2 separate regions of the Homo sapiens genome follow, and region 2 is linked to region 1. The links come from fine-mapping of genetic effects on gene expression. A gene starts in region 1. The other region holds a variant in brackets. All regions are shown on one strand. Distances are between the middles of the regions. Region 1 holds the start of MINDY2 (MINDY lysine 48 deubiquitinase 2). Region 2 has its middle 53 kb from the start of LIPC.

Region 1 (4,395 bases):
TACCGGTCTCCGCATCTTTACGGTAGCGGTCCGCCGGGCCTAGCTGTTTTCTCTTTATCTCTCTGTCTTGTGTCTTTATTTATTACAATCTCTCGTCTCTGAACACGGGGAGAACACCCGCTAAGCCCCGTAAGGCTGGACCCTACAGTTGGACATATACCATAGTATCATGTCAATGCGGATCACAAGGTCAGAAGTTAGAGACCAGCCTGGCCAAGGTAGTGAAACCTCGTCTTTACTAAAAATACAAAAAAAATTAGCTGGACCTGGTGGCGTGCGCCTGTAGTCCCAGCTACTTGGGAGGCTGAGGCAGGAGAATCACTTGAACCCGGGAGGTGGAGGTTGCAATGAGCTGAGATGGCGCCACTGTACTATAGCCTGGGTGACAAAGCGAGACTGCGTCTCAAGTGGGAAAAAAAAAAAAAAAAAAAAAAAAAGGGGCACAGTCTTCTGCATTCTCAGGTAAACAAGAATATAAGTATCCAACATTCATGTATTATATGTAATACATATTATGTGTGGCCGGGCATGGTGGCTCACGCCTGTAATCCTAGCACTTTGGGGGCCGAGGTGGGCAGATCACGAGGTCAGGAGATCAAGACCATCCTGGCTAACACGGTGAAACCCCGTCTCTACTAAAAATACAAAAAGTTAGCTGGGCGTGGTGGCGGGCGCCTGTAGTCCCAGCTACTCAGGAGGCTGAGGCAGGAGAATGGCGTGAACCCGGGAGGCGGAGCTTGCAGTGAGCCGAGATCGCGCCACTGCACGCCAGCCTGGGCGACAGAGCAAGACTCCGTCTCAAAAACAACAACAACAACAAATTAGCCAGGCATGGTGGCGGGCGCCTATAGTCCCAGCTACTCGGGAGGCTGAGGCAGGAGAATCGCTTGAACCCGGGAGGCGGAGGTTGCAGTGAGCCAAGATCGTGCCACTGCACTCCAGCCTGGGCGACAGAGAGAGACTCCGTTTCAAAAAAAAAAAAAAACAAAAGCAAAAACAAAAACAAAAAAACATATAAGTATGTATTAAAAAATAGCAATAAGAAAAAAAAAGACAGTAAGCTCCATGAAGATATAAGCTCCGTGATCCACTATGGCATCTCCAGTGACAGACAGCATCCAGCAACTTACTTGGTACTAAAATGTATTAAAGGAATGAATGAAATACTACTTTGCAATCTTGTCTGCCTTCTCTAACCAACAGAGGTGCAAAAATATCACATTCTAATTATGTATCAGGTATTTATATGTCTGCGAAGGAAGACCTGTCTCGTTAATTTTTTATCCCCAACAGCCTAGAAAATGTTGAAAGAAAAAAGATGGGGGAAAAAGCCCTTTTCTGTAACAAGTTAGAATAGGACCCACATACATTTTGTTACTAACAAAACGTCCAGCTTGTCTTTCTTCTTTGAAAACTGCATGGCCTTAAGAGGAGTCCATTCTAATTAGGAAAAAAGTCACCTTTTCAGAAGCAGGCGCTTCCCACTCCATGCAAAGTGAAGCCAAGTTAGCAAAACCGCAAAGACTTGGCTAATTCAAATACAAGCTAATTTATTATTATTGGCGCAAATTAGCCACTTTCTTTTGCTACGCATGTCAATGTCCACAATCATACCGACCCTTTCCTGTAGGGCGAATGTCTCACCAGTAGCTGGTGAGAAGCACAGCTCTTCTCAGCCAAAACCGACAGAGACTGGAATTTGTGCAGTGCAGTAATCCAAAGCCGTCGAGTAGATATGCCTGCTTTAAAATCTGCATCTCGTAAGAAATGCCTTAATTTTCCATATTAGGAGCTGAGAAACCAAGTCCCCTGAGCCCTTCAGGGACAAGTTCTTTTCCAAATACTACAACCACCTCCAACCACCCAACAATGCCTCAGGCCGAGGGTGGGCCACACGCGACCCAGCGCTAAAGGGTCACAGCCAAGCTGTCCGCCTCCTGCCTTCCCTTTAAAGAAGCCGCACACAAGGGAGCTGCCCGGGAGTTCAACTTCCGGCCACATAGTGAGAGGATGTTTTCCTACTGGAGCTGAGCCGCGGGGGCGCGCCCCCCGGCCGCGCCCTCCTAGCCACGCCCTCCACGCCCGGCCTTCCGAGAGCGAGCTCGGTCGGACGCACGGAAAGGGCTGGGCCACGTGGGCGGCTGCTGAGTGGTTCGCCTTCGCCTCTCAGCGCGCAGTCAGGCGGAGGCAAGCTCAGAGCGCACGGACAGAGCGGTAGCGCGCGCCCGCGCGCGTTCTTAGTACTCTCCCCGGTGACGTGCCTGACCGAGGCCGCGCCAGGGCGCTGTTGCTGCCAATACAGCTGTCATGGCGTCCAAGGCGCTGGCTGCGGAGAAGTGGCCGCGGTCTCCATAGAGCTGGGGGCGGGCGGCCCGGTATGGAGAGCAGCCCCGAGAGCCTGCAGCCGCTAGAACACGGGGTGGCGGCCGGGCCAGCGTCAGGGACAGGTTCTTCGCAGGAAGGGCTACAGGAGACCAGGCTCGCCGCTGGTGATGGTCCTGGGGTATGGGCGGCGGAGACCAGCGGCGGGAATGGGCTGGGGGCGGCGGCCGCCAGGAGGAGCCTCCCGGACTCGGCTTCTCCCGCGGGCTCTCCTGAGGTTCCCGGACCCTGCAGCTCCTCCGCGGGTTTGGACTTGAAGGACAGTGGTTTGGAGAGTCCTGCTGCCGCCGAGGCGCCTCTGAGAGGGCAGTACAAGGTGACCGCCTCCCCGGAGACAGCCGTGGCCGGAGTGGGTCATGAGTTGGGTACCGCCGGAGACGCGGGAGCCCGCCCGGATCTCGCCGGCACCTGCCAAGCAGAACTGACCGCCGCCGGCTCCGAAGAGCCCAGCAGCGCCGGCGGCCTCAGCAGCAGTTGCAGCGACCCGAGCCCTCCTGGGGAATCTCCGAGCCTGGACTCTCTGGAGTCGTTCTCTAACCTGCATTCTTTTCCCAGTAGCTGCGAGTTCAATAGTGAGGAGGGAGCGGAGAACAGGGTCCCTGAGGAGGAGGAGGGCGCGGCGGTGTTGCCCGGGGCTGTTCCTCTGTGCAAGGAGGAGGAGGGGGAGGAGACCGCTCAGGTGCTGGCGGCCTCCAAGGAACGCTTCCCGGGACAATCTGTGTATCACATCAAGTGGATCCAGTGGAAGGAAGAGAACACACCCATCATCACCCAGAATGAGAACGGACCCTGCCCCTTGCTGGCCATCCTCAATGTTTTGCTCCTGGCCTGGAAGGTACATTCTGCAGCTTTCTACTTCCTACAGCTTTTGGGGTGGAGGAAAACGGGGTGAGGGAGCTGCTGCATGTCAGGTGATGGCTTCCTTTCTTTCCTCATTCATCAGTCCCCTTCTTACATGAAATTCATTCCAAGACTTCCATGTTGAAGGAATATTCCTTTATACATATATCGAAAAGAATTGCCCCTAACCTCAGTCTTCTCTTGTAGTGTTTAAGAGTTCAACATTCAATTGTGGTTGATACACTTAGAAACAAGAAGGACTTAGAGCATCTTAAATCTTATGATTATTTTAAACTATAATTTCCTACATTTTCTTACTGACCTTATCACATATGCAAAAAAGTGAAGAATTGGAGAAAGTAATCTTCAGAAGTTACCATCAATCCGTGATATCATGGACTAAGTTTTCATGGTTATATTTAGTTTGATTTCCAACTAATGCCCCATTTGTGTGTAGATACTTAAGAGAATGGTGATGGGGAAGATGTGGCTCTTTAGACAAATTCCATTTAAGGAAAAGCATTGGTCTGAGACCCAATTACCGTAACTTCTTGGTTTTCAAAGATTGTTTTCATTTTATGCATGATTTTTACTTGCCTCATTTCTTTGGCTCTCCTTAAATGGTTTGGCATTATTACCAGTAACCATGCATCCGAATGTGTTAAGGGAGCTAAAACTCTAAAGAACTAAAATAAGAAAAGGTATGTCTAAGGTGAAGGAGCAAAAAAGGGAAAGACCCTTAAAAATAGGTATGTTGAGGACTCAGAGCGAGTTACCTGTCAAATGAAGTGTCTCATTTAAGCTTGCAGTGTTAGGGTGCTGAGAAGATGCATCTCACAGCACCTATTTTATTTTCAAATTGATAATTATATCTGTAGATGCAATGTTTCCTAGGAAAAAAAAACAAAACAAACTGGGTGTGGTGGTGTGCGCCTGTAATCCCAGCTACTCCGTAAGCTCAGCTACTCTGGAGGCTGACACAAGACAATCGCTTGAGCCCAGAAGTTTGAGACCAGCCTGGGCAATACAGTGAGACCCTATATTAAAAGAAAAAGAAAAATAACCTGGATTCTTCTAAACACTTAGGTAGAAAATCAAGTAAAGGGAATAGTGTTTATCAAACATGCCTTTATCTTCCTGTCGCTAGCAAGGACTGATAGAAAAGAAATAAAA
Region 2 (4,395 bases), 390 kb before region 1:
ACATCCTGGAAGATCTAAGGGGGCCCAGTGAAATCACAAGAGTCCTTATAAATGGAAGAAGGAGGCAAAGGAACAAGAACTAAAAAAATGACAGTGTGAGAAGGAGTTGGCCTGATAATGCTGGCTTTGAATATGGAGGAAGAGGCCACAAGCCAAGGAATGTAGCCTAGAGACACTGGAAAAGGCATGAAAATGAATTCTCTCCTACAGCCTCCAAACGAAACACAGCCCTGCTGACACCTTAATTTTAGTCCCAGGAGCCCAATTTGGGACTTCTCACTTCCAGGATTCTAAGAGAATAAATTTGTGTTGTTTTAAGCCATTAAGTTTGTGGTCATTTGTCACAGCAACAATAGGAAGCTAATACACTTTCGTACAGGTCATTTTTCTAATACAGTTCTCAATGCAGCCCTTTAGGACTTCCCTACTTAAAATTGAACCCCTCCCCACTCCCCTTTCCTGCTTTATTTTTCTCTAACACACAATATAGTTAGACTTATTTATCATGCTTATTGTCTCTATCCTTTGTTTAAAACATAAACACACAGCTGGCAGGGTGGCTAATGCCTGTAATCCCAGCACTTTGGGAGGCCAAGGAGGGCAGATCACTTGAGGTCAGGAGTTTGAGACCAGACTGGCCAACATGGCGAAACCCCATCTCTATTAAAAGTACAAAAATTAGCTGGGCGTGGTGGTGGGCGCCTGTAGTCCCAGCTACTCAGGAGGCTGAGGCAGGAGAATCACTTGAACCCAGGAGGCAGAGTTTGCAGTAAGCTGAGATCGCGCCACTGCACCCCAGCCTGGACGACAGAGGAAGGCTCCATCTCAAAGAAAATAATAATTAAAAAATAAAAATAAAACATACATACACAAGGGCAGAAATCATTGCTTCTTTGGAATAGTCCTACCACACAGTAGGTGCTCCATAAAAATTCAGTGAATTAATAACTTAACTTGAATATAGTATTAAGACTAATCCTTTATCCACATAACAGATTCCCTCCACCAAAAAAATTAGCAATTTTGTGGTTATCTCTTTATATTTTCCTCATATAATTTTAGAATCAAACAGAGCCTGCTCCACCCATAATGAAAGTCAAGGAGGAAAGTACATTGGAAATGAGGAATAATTAAAACAACTGTATTAGGCAGGGCTCTCCAGTGAAATAGAACCAATAGGAGATTAGATAGATAGATAGATGATAGGTAGATAGATAGATAGATAGACAGATAGATAGATAGATAGATAGACAGACAGATAGATAGACAGATAGAGTCATGCATCGCTTAACTACAGCACTGTTTTCTGAGAAATGAGTCATGAAGGCAGCTTTGTCATTGTAGGAATGTAACCAAGTACTCCCATTCGTCTAAGAAAAACAGAATGATTTTTTTCTTTTCTTTTCTCCTTTCTCCTTTTCCCCTGTTCCTCACTTCCTACTTAGACCTCCCCATCACCAGACATTCCCTACAGGGCAAGTTCATCTAACTATATGCTTAGGGGCTCCAGAGTGGAACTCTCTCCCGGCTGAAGATTGCCTCGAGAGCAACACTCAATTTACAAGCCTAAGTATGCCCACTACAAAATTCTCTCCCACCTGGAGAGTTTCAGACACTTTTAAAACCTAGTTCTGCCCATGAAGGCGCCAGCTCAATGGCCCAGTAGATAAGGCACTGAAGCGAATTATGTGGACCTCCATCCAATTGCTTTCTCCCCTGCATGCCATTCATGCCAAGC[C/A]CCCTTTTAAAATAATTCCTACTTTCTGCACCTGCTACCCTTAAGACAAGAAGCCTGTACTTCTTCCCCTAAGCTAGCTTTGAAATATAATATATCACTTTTTTTAGAACTAATAAACAAATTTATTAACGTTACAGGATACAAAATCAAGATGCAAAAATCAATGGTGATTTTATACACCAACAACAATCTCATTTATATTAGCAACGAAAAGAAACCACTTAGTAATTAACTTAGCGAAAGAGATGAAAAATTTGTACATTGAAAATTATAAAAGATCGATGGAGGAAATTTAAAAGACACAAATAAATGGGAAGACATCTCATGTTCATAGATTGGAAGAATTTTTTTTAACTTTTAGTTTAATTTCAGGGGTACATGCGCAGGTTTGTTATACAGGTAAATTTGTGTCATGGGAGTTTGTTGTACAGATTATTTTATTACCCCAGTATTAAGCCCAGCATTCACTAGCTATTCTTTCTGATCTTCTCCCTCCTCCCACCCCCACTCTCCAATAAGCCCCAGTGTGTGTTGTTCCCCTCTGTGTGTCCATGTGTTCTCATCATTTAGCTTCCACTTACAAGTGAGAACACATAGTATTTGATTTTTTGTTCCTGCATTAGTTTGCTAAGGATAATGGCCTCTAGCTCTATCCATGTCTCTGGAAAGGGCATGACCTCACTCCTTTTTTATGGCTATATAGTATTCCATGGTGTATATGTACCACATTTCTTTATTCAGTCTACCACTGATAGGCATTTAGGCTGATTCCATGTCTTTGCTATTGTGAATAGTGCTGCAATGAACATACATGTGCATGTGTCTTTATAATAGAATATAAAGCAGTTCCTTTATATCAGACCTCACTCTTGTTAATTGGACTCTGCAAGCAGTGAATGACTGGATCTGCATTTCAGTTACAGGAACAACATAAAGTGTACTTACACAAATTTACACGATACAGTCAAATATACAACTAGGCTATATGATAGAGCCTATCGGTCCTAGGCTAAAAACCCTGTACTGCATGTTACTGTACTGAATACTGACAGCAGTTGTAACACAGTGGTAAGTATTTGTGTATCTAAACATATCTAAACATAGAAAAGCTAAAGTAGTATAATCTTATGGGACCACCATTGTATATGTGATCTATCATTGACCTAAATGTCATTATGCAGAGCATGACAGTATACATATATAAAATAAGGAATTGGTTCACAAGATTATGGGGGCTGAGAAGTCCCGAGATCTGTGGTCAGGCAGCTGGAGACTGAGGAGAGTCAAAGTATAGTTCCAGTTTGAGTCTGAAGGCCTGAGAATCGAGAGAGTAGATGGTGAAAGTTCTAGTCCAAAAACCAGCAGGCTTGAGACCCAAAAACAGCCAATGTTTTAGTCTGAGCCAAAAGGCAGAAAAGACCAGTGTCCCAGCTCAAGCAGTCAGGCAGAAGGAACTTCCTCCTACTTGGCCTTTTTTTTCTATTCAGGTCTTCAACTGATTGGATGAGGCCCAGCCCCATTAGAGAGAGCAATCTGTTTTACTCAGTCTGTCTATCAATTTAAATGTTAGTCCCATCAAAAAACATCCTCTCAGATACACCAGAATAACGTTTAGCCAAAAGTCTAGACACCCAAGGCCCCGTCAGGTTGACACATAAAATTAACCATCACAACCACCAATTTGCATCAATAACATTGGACAAAATGGTTTAGGACATCTAACAAGTGAAATAGAGGAGTTGCTCTGCCCCGACCAAGCCTGAGCCTTGGCTCCACTCCAGCTGGTTCCTGTGCTTGGAGAATAGGAAATCTTTGGAAATATTAGTCAGTTCCCTAGAATATTTAGAAATCCTTGTCCTATAATCAGCCATTTCTCCATAAATACTCCATCAGTTCTCACCTGGATTCCAGACTATATCCACACAGACCATGTATGGGTGAATTCAATAATTCTTTACAAAATAAGTGTCTGATGACTGGGTGCCGTGGCTCATGCCTGTAATCCCAGCACTTTGGGAGGCCAAGGCGGGCAGATCACTTGAGGTCAGGAGTTTGAGACCAGCCTGGCTAACATGGTGAAACTCTGTCTCTACTAAAAATACAAAAATTAGCTGGGGGGCGGCAGGGGGCGGTGGTGTGTCCCCGTAGTCCCAGCTACTCAGGAGGCAGAGGCAGGAGAATCGCTTGAACCTGGAAAGTGTAGGGCGCAGTGAGCCAAGATGGGGCCACTGCACCCCAGCCTGGGTGACAAAGTGAGACTCTGTCTCAAAAGAAAAAAAAAAAGTGTCTGATTGTGATTACTTATTTCATTGTTAAGACAAATGTTCTGGGCTGATCCATCTTTGGCCCAGACTTTCTAGGAACATCAGCTTTTTACTTGTAGCAAAACTATTTACCTGTTTTTGTAGACTAAATTATTCCCTTAACATAGGTAACACAGGCCTGGTCTTGACCCTAGGGAATTTGAACATTTTCCTGAATTATTTCTATGTTCTTATTGATATAATCATGGTAACACTTCCTTCTTTTCTTTCTCCTTCAGGAATTTATTGAGCACTTATTATGGGCTAGTCTTAGTGATTAAAAACACAGTATTTCTGCCCCCAAGCAGCTCAGTCAAATGAAAGGAAGAGATGTAAATAAACAATAATAAAATG

Evidence for each region. PIP is the estimated chance that this variant, and not a neighbour inherited with it, causes the effect.
Region 2: its variant is fine-mapped to the expression of MINDY2 in lung (TOPMed, PIP above 0.99).

The regions. Positions count from the first base shown.
Region 1 is chr15:58,769,019-58,773,413 of GRCh38, forward strand. It overlaps MINDY2 (MINDY lysine 48 deubiquitinase 2), which reads left to right and starts at 2,284. Exons shown (of 9, transcript NM_001040450.3): 1 at 2,284-3,217. The coding sequence starts at 2,378. MINDY2-DT (MINDY2 divergent transcript) reads right to left here and starts at 1,956. Exons shown (of 2, transcript NR_135474.1): 1 at 1,369-1,956. RefSeq lists an enhancer at 1,221-2,146 and a silencer at 1,959-2,238.
Region 2 is chr15:58,377,241-58,381,635 of GRCh38, forward strand. No RefSeq gene overlaps it. Among named protein-coding and RNA genes, the nearest start is that of LIPC, 53 kb to the right of the region's middle. The variant C/A (reference allele first, on the strand shown) is at 1,739.